Regions from separate parts of the Homo sapiens genome. Here region 1 is linked to region 2. Evidence: fine-mapped expression QTL. Tissue or cell type: whole blood. Region 2 holds a variant in brackets; the other region holds the start of a gene. All regions are shown on one strand. Distances are between the middles of the regions.

Region 1 (8,106 bases), 390 kb before region 2:
AGCAGCCAGGAGGCAGAGAACCAGGGTAGGGCCACATCAATGGTGCCTGTGGCCGTGCCCAGCAGGTGCAGGTGTTTTCTTCTCCCATGTCAGTGCTGGTCTCTCAGGGGTGGCTGTGACCAGAAGTCACACATGGAGTGATTTTGAAATGGATCCCTGGTTTTACAGCTCCAGAGATGTGAAATGGGTGAATGATGGAGCTACACTCATGTGGCTCTTCAATGGCACAGTGAAAAAAGCAAGCAAGATGGAGCCAGATAGACCTGGGTTCAATGCCAGCAATGATTTAACCTGTGACCTGAGGCAGTAACTTCCCCTCTCTGAGCCTCAGTTTCCTCGAGGATTGGAGGGGCCCAATACTACTCACCACATGGCATTACTTTTAAGACCTAATAGGCTAACAACAAGGACTTTGCACATGGTGGCCCTGAACAAATATTTGTTTTGACCTGGCTTCCTAGCATCCCAGGAGGGGTGACCCTCTCCAATCCCCACCTCCCTAGTGAAGTTTCAAAGGACAGGTTTTTCTGGACGGGAAGGAAGAGTTTCTCTGGGCAGGAGACGGTTAAAAGCTGGGACTACGATTCCAGCCTGGGGCTGCCCCCTCCTGGCCAGCTGTCTGAACCCCTGAATTATAGATGTGCTTGCTCCTGGCCTGGCGAGCAAGAGCTAGTAGGTGCTGGGAGCCAGGCCTAGTCCAGGGTCACCTAAGGGTAGGGCCATTGGGCCAGACGCACCTCCTCACTCCACATGCAGACACACACACCGAGTCCCCTCCCAGTTCTGACTGTGCACCCACATTCACAGATATAACCTGTACACAAAGTCTATGCACAGACCACACATCTCCAAACCCCATCTACACAGCAGACACACACACAGCAAGCACACATCGAAATCACAAAGAAATCATCAGATGACACATACTGAGACATACTTAGACCTCCCCTCCCCATCCAGACACACGCAGGCAGGGTGGGCAGAGGCTCCCAACATAAAGATACAGCCACAGTCATAACTGTCATAATTAACACATATGGAGCACTTACTCTGTGCTAGGTATTGCTCTAAGCCCTTTCCAGAGAACAGTTTATTTAATTATTATGTAATAGAGATAGCTACAATTATTATACCCCCATTTTACAGATGAGGAAACTGAGGGAAGGAGAATTAAAATAAGATGCCTGAGGTCACACAGGTGTCCTGGCACAGCCTCAGGCACAGATACCCACCCCCTCGCTCTTGTCCCCCATTTACATAAACACATTCATTCAAACGCAGCATCCCCCAACCCCTGACCTGCCCGCACACACTCAGGGTGAGCGCTCTTTGGGGGACTGTTGACTAAAGACGCAAGAAATGGCCTATTGGCCAACGGGTGGTAAACTGTAACAAGAGCCGGTCCGGTGGCCCGGCGCGGTGGCTCACGCCTGTAATCCCAGCACTGTGGGAAGCCGAGGTGGGCGGATCACGAGGTCAGGAGTTCGAGACCAGCCTGACAAACATGGTGAAACCCGGTTTCTACTAAAAATACAAAAATTAGCGGGGCGTGGTGGCGCTCGCCTGCAATCTCAGCTACTCAGGAGGCTGAGGCAGGAGAATCGCTTGAACCCGGGAGGCGGAGGTTGCAGTGAGCCGAGATCGCACCATTACACTCCAGCCTGGGCGGCACAGCAAGAGTCTATCTCAAAAAAAAAAAAAAAAAAAAAAAAAAAAAAGCCGGACCGGTGAGAAGACTAGACCTCCTAAAGGTGGAGGCGGAGCTCAAAAGCCGGACGCTACTGGACGAGGCTTAAAGCGCTCGCCCCAGCGCGGGGCCGGTGAGGAACGTTCACCGTGGACCATGGTCGAATAATGTTAGCGTGCACTCGGGGCCTCGCCCTAGCCTTCTGCAAAGCCTCGGCCTGCGCCCTCGGCTGCATCCGTTTCGACGCCAACCAACCTCATGCTCTTAGTAGAACGGCAGTAGCGACCGCGCCCTCAGGCCCACAAGCCCGAAGGTCTGGGCAGGGTCTGGAATGGCGGTGGAGACACTTTATCCGCAGGCGTTTCACCTCGCGCCCCACCCAGGCGCACACCAAGTTCTTGGTACTCCTTTTAATGGGAAAACAAGAACAGACACCATGGTTGGATAAATGTTATTTATAATTCATGGGCCGGTCTTTGAACCCTTTCAAACAAAACCCACAGCGATTTCTTTGAAAGAATGCCTGGACTGTGCTCAGAGCTCTCAGATTTTCTCAGGACCAACGAGCCGCCGCCTCGCAGATACCACTGTAAATTACCCAGCGCCTTACGTTCGTTTCTGATTATTTGCATTGCAGTGGGTTTGTTAATGAAGGACAAGAGTTTAGAAAAATCTTTTATTTTGGAAGTTGGACACGCAATCGACCCCAGCAGTGTTCCTAAAAGGAGCTATGCCATTTGGATGGGGGAAAAATGAGGGGGCGGGGAAGTCCATGTTACATTTAAAACAACAACAGCAACAAATTAAAAGCAAAACAAAACAACAAAAAAAAGGAAGTGGAGCAGGAGGAGGAGGTGGTGGTGGAGGAGAGGGAGGAGGGGCAGCAGCAGCGGCAGCAGCAGCAAGGATGGAGTCAGGACCCGTCCCAGTCCCGGGTGAGCGCTTTTGGATCTGGGTTCTGGCTCAACCCACGTAATGCCCCAATCTAAAGTTTTCTACGTGTGTGTGGATAGGAAAGTCTAAATAGAGTTTATCAGAACCCAGGTGGTCATTCTCTACACTCTCTCTAGCTTGGACCCGAAGAACAAAGGCACATGAGAGGAGAAAGGTGACCAGCTGGACGATGACGGTCACGTCCAAACGGATCCCCCTTGTCCTCGGCTCTCTCGTCCTGAGAGTGGGTTTAATTTTTTTTTTTTTAATTTATATAAGAAGGGAGCTCTTAAAGGAGAGCCATCTCCACCCTCAGGTATCCATCACCCAGCTCCAGCGCGCCTGGGAAAACCGCCCCGAAAGTCCAAGAGGAAGCTCAGAGTTGTAACGGCCGCGGAGCCAGCTCGGCGGTGACGCAAGGTCCAGTCCAGATTGCCAGGCCCGGGGCATGAGAGAGGATCCTTGTAGGTTTCGGAGGTGGGGGGGCTGCACTCCATTGTTCACTCCGGGCCAATCAGGGTTGGCCCACTTCCTCCCAGCCAATCTCCCTTCACCCCCAGCCTCCAACCCAACCCACCCCGCCCATCAGCCCCTGGATCCCCATCACCTCCCCCGCATCCCCGGCAGTTCTGGGGAAGCTTCGTGACGCCACAGGTCCCGCCCCCAGCTCCGGCCCGGGGCTAGTGCGTGTTGACGTCATGCTGCGTGCGGGCCGGTGCGGAATCGCTCCTTCAACTCCGCGGGGCAGTAGGAGTTAGTTAGCAAAGAGCCGAGGCCGGGCGCGCGACCCTCGTCCTTCTGCCCCTGGCCGCACACTTTGCGCACATCTCTTTTTCTGCATGGTGGATATTATTTTTCATTATCCTTTTCTGGGTGCTATGGGTGATCATTCCAAGAGTAAGTATTTCTGTGTGTGTGTGGGGTGGGGTGTGTGTGTATGCTTAATATGCAAAATTTCTAATGCAGAAAAATGTTTAGTGGATTCTACAAGTGGCTTCTATTTGTCAGAATAGTTTAGGAGAGGAAAAACGAATGCATGTCTCCTGCAGGACTGCTTATCTTTGGGAATCCTGTTGTTTTATTTTATAAGTAAACACTATTTCTCAAGCCGGCTAGGATGACTTCGGGCTGCGAAATCTGCTTCTGTTTTGCGCAAAGGCAATTAGGTTTGATTTAGGGATGTGGGTTTTTTTTTTTTTGGTTGTTGTTTGTTTGCCTTTCGGTTTTTCAAAGCTAGGAAGCTTTCTTTCGCTTGCTCTGGGATATTTAAACTAAGAAATGTCTGAGAGGATGAGCGGGGACTGCCGAAAGACGATGTGTCTGTGTTGGGATAGGAGGCAGCCGCTGTGAGTGGGAGTGTGTGAGCGGAAATGCCAGGACAGCACCGTTAGGTGTTGATATCCAGGCGTCCGCAGTGCCTGTGTATTTACTCTCTTCTTAGTTTCGTGTTTGCGTTTAGTTTCAAGACACGTCGACAAAACGACTGTCATTAATGAATGTAATAACGAAATATTTGGGGTGGGGGACAGAAGAAACCTTCAGCAATCCACAAGATACTGGTTTTTCGTTTCCAATGCCCTGGACCTTTAGAGAGCTCATCATCTTTCCTTATGGTCGCAAGTCTTGAAAGAAAGAGCAAGAGAGCGAGCGGGTTGGGTTGGGGCTGGAGTAGCCGAGGCCGGCCTGGGTCCGGGCAGTCAGGCCTGACGCGGCCCCGCGCCCTTCCCCGGCAGAGAAGCCCGGGACGGCCATGTGCGTGGGCTGCGGGAGTCAGATCCACGACCAGTTTATCCTGCGGGTGTCGCCCGACCTCGAGTGGCACGCGGCCTGCCTCAAGTGTGCCGAGTGCAGCCAGTACCTGGACGAGACGTGCACGTGCTTCGTGAGAGACGGGAAGACCTACTGCAAGCGGGACTATGTCAGGTGAGGCCGGCGGGAACGCGGGCTGGGCCACCGCGCGCAGGGGCCGGGGCCGGGACTGGGGATGGCGGCCTGCCCGCGCGCCCCGGCCCTGCCCAGGGAGAAGGCCATCCGCATCCCGCACGGGTGCCGCAGCGCTCCCCCGGGCCCGGGAATGCCCGCAGGCGGGTCACCGCAGTCTCCTGGTGGCCACAAAGTGTCCTGGGCGCGCGCCGGAGCCGTAGCAGCCAGGGAGATGAGGGCGGCCGCAGGCCCAGCGCTGACACCGCCGCACCTTGGGCCCGCAGGCTGTTCGGCATCAAGTGCGCCAAGTGCCAGGTGGGCTTCAGCAGCAGCGACCTGGTGATGAGGGCGCGGGACAGCGTGTACCACATCGAGTGCTTCCGCTGCTCCGTGTGCAGCCGCCAGCTGCTGCCTGGGGACGAGTTCTCGCTGCGGGAGCACGAGCTGCTCTGCCGCGCCGACCACGGCCTCCTGCTCGAGCGCGCCGCGGCCGGCAGCCCGCGCAGCCCCGGCCCGCTTCCCGGCGCCCGCGGCCTGCATCTGCCCGGTAAGCGCGCCGGGGCCTGTGCCGGGGTGAGCGGGGTGTATGTGCGTGCGTGTGTGTAGGGGTACGCTTGTGTCCCTAACGAGAAGTTGTCAGTTGTGTGTGGTTCCGTCTGCCGGGATAGTGTTTTTCTGTATCAGTGCGGAACTGTGTGCTGGGAACAAGGCTGTGTGTATTCTCGTGTGCTCGGGAGAAACTGCGTGTGTATGAGTGTGTGAGCACGGAGAATTGTGCAGAATCGTGTTCTCCATGACCAGGAACATGCAGGGCACAGTGCTAGGAGCAGAAGAGTGGATGACAACAGGGAATCTTAAGTGGTGTCCGTCTTGGGGCTTGTATTAGGAATTTCTTGGAGGAATATGTGTTATTGTCAGAGGGTAAGGTTTGCCCAGGGGTATGTGTGTAAGTAACACAGCTCCAAACTGGGAGCTGGGCAGGAGCTTGGTCAGCCAGGAGCCAAGAACCCAACAAAGAGGGGTTTTTGCCATCTTGTTTTGAGGCCCAGTTTGATGAACAATTTAGCCAGGTTCTTCTGGGGGAGGGGGAGTATCAATGCATAGTGGACTGTCACTGGAATATTCTGGGTCCTAATCAGCAGCTGCCCAGAGATGGGGTCTGAGTGTATAATGGGCAGGTACGGCTGAACAGAAACAGAGGTGCCTCCACCCCAGGCAAGGCAGTTTCCCCCAGGTAGCCATAGGCCTGCAGCACAGATCCGTAGACCAGGCTGGGCCTCTGGGTGCTGTGTGGCCTTGCCCCGCTCCTCCCCTCTCTGGATCTTCACTTCCTCCCTATAGAAAGAGGAAACTGGGCTGGATGGGCTATTTGTAAATATTTGTCCAGACCTAGAAATTCGTAGAGGGGAACATAAACCGAAATGGTGCAGTACAGATCCACGGTATATATGGGTCGGGATCAAATGGAGATGTGAAATGGGAGCAAGCGGGTATTCAGTGCACCCCCATCTGGGATCTCGGAGAGGCTCCCCTTTGTTTGTTTCGGGCTTCAGGGTGCAGGCTCTGGAATCAGTCACTGTTTCCCCGGGATGGAGAGAACCTGGGGCCAAGCGAGGAGAGTGCCAGCGGCTGCTCAGCACCTTGGTCGGTGGGAGGCCACTGGGCTGGGGAACCTGGAGCCTTGAGGAAGGAGACAGGGGCCGAAGCCCAAGGGCGGGCAGGAAGGAACTGTTGCAAGCCCTGGAGGCCCGTCCATAACCGTGGATGAGTCTTCTACACATGTGGCCTGGCCCTGTCCAAATGGGCTCTGAAGGAGGGGAAGGGCCCTCGTAGGCCCCCGGCATATTCGCACCTCCCACCCAGTCCCCTGGGCAGCGCCTCGCCCTGGGTCCACGTCGGTCCCTTTCCCTCTCCAGAGTCCTGGGCAAGCCTCTTTCCTCTTCCTCTGAAACTCCGACTTCTTCCGGAGGGCTTCGCTCGTTCCGAGGGTCCTGCGACTGGAGGAGGCACATCCCTGAGCAGCCACTCCCTCCCCGCAGCGGCCTGTCGCCGAGCTCCCGCGCCCTGCTTGAGCTCGGGAGAGATCGCTGCGGGGCAGTCCGGCCCGGGAGCGAGAGAAAGAACGAAAATGCACAGCTCTCTCCGAGTAAGGCGAACAGATGGAGAGGAAGACGAACAATTAAACGAAACAAACAGAATAAAACAGAAACGAAATCGGGCCCCGGGGGGCTGGGCCACCCGGAGGTTGGGCTCGGGGCGGGTGGGTGGCGGCCCCTCGCTAACCTCTGGCCTCACCCTGTCCTGGCAGACGCTGGGTCGGGCCGGCAGCCCGCGTTGCGCCCGCACGTGCACAAGCAGACGGAGAAGACGACCCGCGTGCGGACTGTGCTGAACGAGAAGCAGCTGCACACTCTGCGGACCTGCTACGCCGCCAACCCGCGGCCCGACGCTCTCATGAAGGAGCAGCTGGTGGAGATGACCGGCCTGAGCCCGCGGGTCATCCGCGTCTGGTTCCAGAACAAGCGCTGCAAGGACAAGAAGAAATCCATTCTCATGAAGCAGCTGCAGCAGCAGCAGCACAGCGACAAGACGGTGAGCAGCCGCTGGGCCGGAGGCTCGAGTCGGGTGGGGGCTGCGCTTCCGCCGCGGTATCTGCGTGCCCTTTTCTGGGCGAGCCCTGGGAGATCCAGGGAGAACTGGGCGCTCCAGATGGTGTATGTCTGTACCTTCACAGCAAGGCTTCCCTTGGATTTGAGGCTTCCTATTTTGTCTGGGATCGGGGTTTCTCCTTGTCCCAGTGGCAGCCCCGCGTTGCGGGTTCCGGGCGCTGCGCGGAGCCCAAGGCTGCATGGCAGTGTGCAGCGCCCGCCAGTCGGGCTGGTGGGTTGTGCACTCCGTCGGCAGCTGCAGAAAGGTGGGAGTGCAGGTCTTGCCTTTCCTCACCGGGCGGTTGGCTTCCAGCACCGAGGCTGACCTATCGTGGCAAGTTTGCGGCCCCCGCAGATCCCCAGTGGAGAAAGAGGGCTCTTCCGATGCGATCGAGTGTGCGCCTCCCCGCAAAGCAATGCAGACCCTAAATCACTCAAGGCCTGGAGCTCCAGTCTCAAAGGTGGCAGAAAAGGCCAGACCTAACTCGAGCACCTACTGCCTTCTGCTTGCCCCGCAGAGCCTTCAGGGACTGACTGGGACGCCCCTGGTGGCGGGCAGTCCCATCCGCCATGAGAACGCCGTGCAGGGCAGCGCAGTGGAGGTGCAGACGTACCAGCCGCCGTGGAAGGCGCTCAGCGAGTTTGCCCTCCAGAGCGACCTGGACCAACCCGCCTTCCAACAGCTGGTGAGGCCCTGCCCTACCCGCCCCGACCTCGGGACTCTGCGGGTTGGGGATTTAGCCACTTAGCCTGGCAGAGAGGGGAGGGGGTGGCCTTGGGCTGAGGGGCTGGGTACAGCCCTAGGCGGTGGGGGAGGGGGAACAGTGGCGGGCTCTGAAACCTCACCTCGGCCCATTACGCGCCCTAAACCAGGTCTCCCTGGATTAAAGTGCTCACAAGAGAGGTCGCAGGATT
Region 2 (8,106 bases):
TGCTGTGACTCTTGTGATCTAGACTTTCATGTCTGACAGAACATTTCCAAACTTGGTCCTCTAACCTTTTACTAATTATGCCCTCAGTATCTTCCCCAAAAGTCTCTTTTGCTGAAGCCATCCAGAATCAAATTATATATTTTTTGATTTGAGTGTGGTGGTACACACCTGTAGTCCAAGCTACTCAGGAGGGTGAGGTGGGAGGATCACTTGAGTCAGAGAGTTCAAGATCAACCTGGGGAACATCGCAAAACCTCATCTCAAAAAAACTCTACATGACAGTAAATGGCTTTAAGACCTCAACTTGAATATTCACTCAGTGCAAAATGTTCATCAAGATAGCAAATGAGATACCTAGCTCTTTCCCGGGCTGCATCCTCACGGGCTTTTTCCTTTTCTTGCCTCTGTTGTTCAATTCGGGCTTCTTGTTCTTTCCTCTTCATTAACAATTCTTCTACACGGGCCTGCCGCTCTGCCTCTAGAGCTCTCTTGCGTTCCTAATGTTAGAAATATTTGTTTCCAATATTAGAATTATGTGTAAAATAAAAATGATTCAAAGTAATATACCTTTCACCAAACTTACATGTTCAAGCCAAGTAGAAACATGGGCTTGCCACTAGGTACTCTGCTTCTTAAAGTTTAAACAAAAATCAAATAGCAATGATATCTGGTTTCTGAAAGTCATTTACCAGTGTTACACATAATTCAGTAAAGACTTGCTTTTTTATACAAACACTGTGTTATACTTGTTTTGTGGGAACTTGTGATGGTTAATCAGCTGCCAGCGAGGCTAGAATATAAAGCAGGCAGAAAAATATGAAAAGAGAGACTGGCCTAGCCTACCAGCCTACATCCTTCAGCCGTGCTGGATGCTTCCTGCCCTCAAACATCAGACTCCAAGTTCTTCAGTTTTGGAACTCGGACTGGCTCTCCTTACTCCTCAGCTTGTAGACACTCTGTTGTGGGACCTTGTGATTGTGTGAGTTAATACTTAATAAACTCATATATATATATGTTTTATATATATATACACACACACACATATATATACACATACACACACACACACACACACACACACACACATATACATATATATCCTATTAGTTCTGTACCTCTAGAGAACTCTGACTAATACAGAACTTAATATATGTTTTCTGATTAATCACTTCTAAAGCCTTGTGTTAATATATGGTTATAGAAACACCTGAATATGATGAAAAAACCATAGTTAATAGATTTTATTTCTGAACTAAGCTTTCATGATGGAATTAAGTAAAGACAGTTTGTGAGAAGGAGAAAGAGGTAATACAATAGAGCACAGTGGGTGTAAGAGTGGATATCGGGTCAGATTCCCTGGTTTTGTTTCCTGACCCCATTATTCACTAGCACAGTGGCTCTGGGCTACTTAGTTACATTCTCTGTGCCTTACTTTTCTAGAAGATAAATAATAATATGTATTTCTTAGGATATTATAAAGCACAGATGAGCTAATATATGAAAAGCACTTACCATAGGGCCTGGCATATATAAAATTCTAAATAATTATCATCATCATCATCATCAAGCCAGAAGATAAATCATGAAAACTGGGTAACTTCAACATGAAATATTTGTCACTAACATGTTCCTCATCTTATTGATATGTTTCTCTGAATCCATACCCATTCCCCAGATAGCACTCACAACCTCTCGGTAGCCTCTCCTCTATAATTAATGGAATACATTGATCTAGGCTCTAGTACCTACTACTTACATAACCTTGGGCAAAGTACTTCACCTTAAAGAGCCTCAGTTGATTGTGAGATGTAAATTATTAATTACAGGTAAGTTCTCAGCATAGAGTTTAGCCATAGTAAGGGCTCAGTAAAAGATAGCAGAAAAAAAATAACAAAGCAATTTCTGTTCAGGGAACACAAAAGAGAGATTTGAACATTTCTAATAGTTAACTGAGCGCACAATAGTAACTTCATCTCCACAACAAGCTCTATCTGCCCCAGGGAAAGAAAGCCTTTTAAAAATAGCCAAAAGGATCTCTATTTCTTTCTTTTTTTTTTGAGGGGGTAGGTGGTATAAGAAGAGGGTAAACTGGGAATTGGAGGGAATGCCCTTATTTGAGGAGGACATAACAGGCACACTGCAGACTGTTGGAGTCATGCAATTAGATTTTAAAATATATCCTTTACTGTCTGAGCATACTATTCATGAAATAGTTGTAGCTATTTCTCATGACTAATCAAGAATAATATGTGGAAACTTGGTTAGCCAAAAAAAATCAAAAACTCTTAAGAGTAAAAACAATCAAATCTGGCACAGAAAATTTTCTCCATTAAAAAAAAAGTGAATAAAAAAATTCCTCTTATAGTCCAATTTTTCTGAAGTTTAAAAATTCCATATTATATCTGAAAACACATGTTTCACAACAAAATACAAAGAGCTTAGGCATTAAATATAAATAATTAAAGCAGAATTTTTCATTTCATATTTTATTAATATAAGACCAAAGGCTTGAGGAATGTAATTTTTTAAATCCTAAACTGATCTTATAAAATATGTATTATGTAAAAATAATTACTGCAGGTATGTGCAATGTAGCCAAGTGTACACTTGTAAACATAATGTCAACTTGCTGACTGTTTTAATGGATATCAGACCAACTCCAACATTGTATGAAAAGAGATAACTGGACGTAAAAAGTTACTCAACCTATTAATTTCCATTTTTAATAACTTGAAAAGAGAACTGGTAGCCATACAGCTAATGAGTAAAATTCAGCTACCATTTCCCAATCTGAAATTTAAATTCCCGAAAGACAGGAAACTTTGTACCTCATAAAGCACCCTGCAAAGGGTAGGGATTTCTAAATATCTGTTTAATAAATGAAGCATGACTTTATAAAATAATATACACTATGAATCTATATAGCCACAAGGAAAGAATTAAAACTTACAGCAAAGGAATTAGAAATATAACTAATTCTTAAGCCTACAGAAGAACCTCTCAGACCCCTTCATATCTCAGCCAGGGAGGTGTTTAAGGCAGCCTAAGAAAGGATTCTGTAGCTCCTCTTTATGCCTACAATTCAAATGATTAGGACAAAAGGACAAAGCAGGATAAGTAAAAAAGAAAAAATTGAGCTTATAATTAATCAATAAAGAATATACATACCAATAACAGCAAACTGAGAATATATGATGGCAGCACTTGGTATTTTACTTACAAGAAATGAGAATCACAATTGCCTTTAATAGTCCATGAGAATGCTTCAAGAGTAAAAATAAAATGGATGGAGGGTCTCTGAAATTCTGTATTAGGTTAGGATCTTACCATTATTGTATTTACAGAATACTTGGCACTAGTGCCTGTACAGCAAGTAATGATTACACATTTTTAAAATTTTAATGTTATACATGTTATCTACCAGTGGATTTTTCTGACTATCTATCTCAGTATATCTCAAGCATATGTAGACAGGTTTAAAATCTTTCACTGAAATTAAATCCATAGGAAACTTCAGCACTTTTAAAAACAAAAATAATTCTAAAGAGCCAAAACAATTCTTAAAGTGTTGGTTGGTGGAGGAAATTCCCTACTAGTTTAGTAAACTGTTTTCCTTTAAGTTTTAATGAATGTTAAAAATTGTGAAGTGAGAGTCATCATTTTTAAACGAAAGATAACTGTTATATTTCAAATCTGCAAAATGCAGAGTAAGGAACCAAAGATGTCTATTTAAAAATATACACTACTACTCATGTACTTCACCTAGTTGAAGCTGATGATTCTATTGCTATGATTACAGTCTGCTGATGAAAGAACTGATGACCGTAACTGAAAGAGAACACACTATCTTTTAGAAAATAGACTTTATGTTTCTAGAGTGCCATATTGAACCATGCACCTTTGGGAACAAACACTAGGTTACTCCATTTGGGGTCCTCAGCAACTAGCTTTAAATCTAAAATATGTGTGGGCGGCAAGCCACCCAGGTGCCAAGGCAAGAGACCGAGGGCATGAGCTGTTCCAGTATAATAAAATATACAAAATAAGAATAGTTATACTAGATATAGATCACAGATATGATTATATATGAATATCATTAATCATTAGTTTGTAGCAATTACTCTTTATTCCAATATTATAATAATCCTTGCTCTACAATCATAACCTAGGAAAAACCAGGCCATACAGAGATAGGAGCTGAGGGGACATAGTGAGAAGTGACCAGAAGACAAGAGTGAGAGCCTTCTGTTATGCCCAGACAGGGCCACCAGAGGGCTGCTTGGTCTAGTGGTAACGCCAGCGTCTGGGAAGATGCTCATTGCCAAGCGGACCGTGGTCTAGCGGTAGCATCAGTGTCAAGGAAAAACACCCACTACTTAGCAGACCGGGAAAGGGACTCTCCCTTTCCCCCGGGGAGTTTAGAGAAGACTCTACTCCTCCACCTCTTGTGCCCGCAGTTATCCTGAGGCCTAACCGTCTCCCTGTGATGCTGTGCTTCAGTGGTCACGCTCCTAGTCCACTTTCATGTTCCATCCTGTACACTTGGCTCTGCCTTTTAGAAAGCAGTAGCAAATTAGTGAAAGTACTAAAAGTCTCTGATATGCAGAAATAATGGCGTAAGCTGTCTCTCTCTCTCCTCTCTCTCTCTGCCTCAGCTGCCAGGCAGGGAAGGGCCTCCTGTCCAGTGGACATGTGACCCACTTGACCTTACGTATCA[T/C]TGGAGATGGCTCACACGCCTTACCCTGCCCGTTTGTCTTGTATCCAATAAATATCAGCACAGCCTGGCATTCAGGGCCACTACCGGTCTCCACGTCTTGGTGGTAGTGGTCCCCCCAGGCCCAGCTGTCTTTTATTTCTTTGTCTTATGTCTTTATTTCTACAATCTCCCATCTCCGCACATGGGGAGAAAAACCCACCGACCCTGCGGGGCTGGACCCTACAAATATGACAGGTGCTCAAGCAATGTTTGCTGAATAAAAAAATCCTACCTGCACAGCTTCATCACGTGCTTGCTTTTCTTCCTGTCTTCTCTGACGCTCTTCCTGTAGCTCATTAAGCCTCTGTTCATATTCCTTCAATTTTGATAAAACATCATGACGTTTATTCTGGGCTTCAAGGGTATTTATAAAGGCAATTTCATTTACCTTTAAAAAAACAAAGAAGGTAAGGTTCAGATCAAGTTAATTCTAGGGCACATTACAAAAATAAGAAATCTAACAACAGTCAGGCTGGGCGTGGTGGTTCACGCCTGTGATCCTAGCACTTTGGGAGGCTGAGGAAGGCGGATCACCTGAAGTTGGGAGTTCGAGACCAGCCTAGCCAATATGGTGAAACCCCATCTCTACTAAAAAAAAAAAAGAAAAAATAGCCAGGCGTGGTGGCAGGTGCCTGTAATCCCAGCTACTCGGGAGGCAGAGGCAGGAGAATTGCTGGAACCCAGGAGCCAGAGGTTGCAGTGAGCCAAGATCGTGCCACTGCACTCCAGCCTGGGTGACAGAACAAGACTCCATATCAAAAAAGAAAGAAAGAAAGAAAGAAATCTAACAACAGTCTTTATATAATAACATGAACCAGTGGTAAGGCATGGAACAAAAAAAAAATGAAGGAATTATTGGTCTTTTCTTTCAATATTTACCTCAAAATGGATAATAATCCAGTGTGTATAAAAAATCCACAGGCCTTAGAAAGAAGTGATTTAGAGGCCTGCCACTGAAAACATTTTTAAGTGAAGAAACAATTTTAAATTCTTATACAGACCATCTTACAAAGTTCTACTTAATAACAGTGTAATTTGCAACTATACAAATTACACAAACATTGAAATAGGTATGCTCACGTTATTCTAATGAGTTTGAAAGGACAAAATGTAAAATAAACAACAAATTACTTTTCTTCAACATATAATGAATGAGTGACAATTAGATACAAGGTACTGAACTATACATTGCATCCTTAACTTCACATATATTGATCCTTAATAGTCAAGTTTTGCTAGAAAGTACAGATATTATGAGTAAAGGATAGCTAATGATAAAGCTCAAAAATCAGGTAGGATCAACCCTCTCATTCTTGAAAGCCAGAGCGGAGGGTATGCTACAGTTAAAATGGTAGAGTGAAGTAGGGAAGTGAACACTAGAGACAACTGTCTTTGACAGCCACAGACTACAGGAATCCATGCTGGATGGAACAAAACCTACGTTAAGATATTTTATAAATCTCAGAAAAGTTTGAATACAGATCCAACTAAGCTTTCCCAATCTCCATGCCATGATACCACTTTCATAAGCACTTTAATAAGTAGATTAATCACAGAAACATCCTTCAAACTGTACTGAACGTACTCAAAATACAAGATAGGCCAGGTGTGGTGGCTACGCCTGTAATGCCAGCACTTTGGGAGGCTGAGGCGGGTGGATCACAAGGTCAGGAGTGCAAGCTAGCCTGGCCAAGATGGTGAAACCCCGTCTCTACTAAATATACAAAAATTAGCCGGATGTGGTGGCAGGCACCTAATCCCAGCTACTCAGGAGGCTGAGGCAGAGAACTGCTTGAACCCGGGAGGTAGGGGTTGTAGTGAACCAAGATCGCACCACTGCACTGCACTCCAGCCTGGGCGACAAAGTGAGATTCCATCTCTCTCTCTCTATATATATATATATGATAAACAAGTATGCTCAAGGAAACTTTATTCAGACTATATCATAAACATAATCAAAATGAAAGAAAAAGTAATGGGACCTAATACACTAAGCAAAATTTTTACAATAAAATAAAACTCACAAGGGAAAGAGTATGCAAAAGTCAGATTAAACAACTCAACCTTGGCAGGGTGCAGTGGCTCATGCCTGTAATCCCAGCACGTTAGGAGGGCCGGGCAGGAGGATTGCTTGAGCCCAGGAGTTCAAGATCAGCCTGAGCAATGTAAAATGACTATCTCTATTAAATATAAATATATACAGATAGATAGATATAGATATATATATTTAGCCAGGTGTGGTGGCATGCAACTATAGTCCTAATTACTTGGGAGGCTGAGGTGAGAGGATTGCTTGAACCCAGGAGTTAGAGGCTGCAGTGAGCCATGATCGCGCCACTAAACTCCAGTTTGGGCAACAGAGTGAGACCCTGTCTCATTTAAAAGAACAGCAACAATTTGGAAGAAAATAATAACCTGTGGTCAGGCACGGTGACTCACACCTATAATCCCAGTACTTTGGGAGGCCGAGACAGGCAGATTGCCTGAGCTCAGGAGTTTGAGACCAGCCTGGCCAACACAGTGAAACCTCATCTCTACTAAAATACAAAAAAAAAATTAGCTGGGCGTGGCAGCATGCCCCTGTAATCCCAGCTACTTTGGAGGCTGAGGCAGGAGAATCGCTTGAACATGGGAGATGGAGGTTGCAGTGAGCCAAGATTGTGCCACTGCACTCCAGCCTAGGCAACAGAGACTCCGTCTCAAAAAAAAAAAAAAAAGAAAGAAAAAAAGATAAGAAAAGAAAATAACCTAACAAACAGCAGAAAATTCATTAGACAAACTTGGTAGCACTGAAGAATTTGACAAAAACATGAATTTAAAGAAGCAAAGGAAAGATGATAAAACAACATACAGTAGTATGTCCTTATCCACAGGGAATACATTCCAAGACCCCTGGTGGATGCCTCAAATCACAGACAGTACCTATATAGTCAGCCCTCCATATCTGTGGGTTCTGCATCCATGGATTCAATCAACCATAGATAAAAAATGTTTTTTAATGGGTGATTGTGTTTGTACTGAACATGTACAGGCATACCTCAAAGATATTACAAGTTTGGTTCCAGCCCACCACAATAAACTGAGTATCGCAATAAAGGAAGTCACATGAATTATCAAATTTCCCAATGCATATAAGTTATTTTTACACAATACTATGGCCTATTAATTGTGCAACAGCATTATGTCTAAATAAACAATGTACGCACCTTAATTCTAAAACACTTTTTCTAAAAAATGCTAATGAACATTCGAGCCATTAGCAAGTTATAATCTTTTTTTCTGGTGGAGAGTCTTGCACTGATGTTGATGGCTGCTGACTGATCAGGGTGGTGGTTGCTGAAGGTTGAAGT

What was found. PIP is the estimated chance that this variant, and not a neighbour inherited with it, causes the effect.
Region 1: it holds the start of ISL2, and the variant in region 2 is fine-mapped to the expression of ISL2 in whole blood (TOPMed, PIP 0.91).

Annotation. Positions count from the first base shown.
Region 1 is chr15:76,333,425-76,341,530 of GRCh38, forward strand. It overlaps ISL2 (ISL LIM homeobox 2), which reads left to right and starts at 3,349. Exons shown (of 6, transcript NM_145805.3): 1 at 3,349-3,517; 2 at 4,354-4,543; 3 at 4,828-5,090; 4 at 6,852-7,135; 5 at 7,710-7,877. The coding sequence starts at 3,460. RefSeq lists enhancers at 3,084-3,378, 3,190-3,689, 3,383-3,432, 3,858-4,669, 6,217-6,286 and 2 more.
Region 2 is chr15:76,728,241-76,736,346 of GRCh38, forward strand. It overlaps SCAPER (S-phase cyclin A associated protein in the ER), which reads right to left. Exons shown (of 32, transcript NM_020843.4): 16 at 4,989-5,144; 17 at 355-497. Among named protein-coding and RNA genes, the nearest start is that of MIR3713, 150 kb to the left of the region's middle. The variant T/C (reference allele first, on the strand shown) is at 4,718.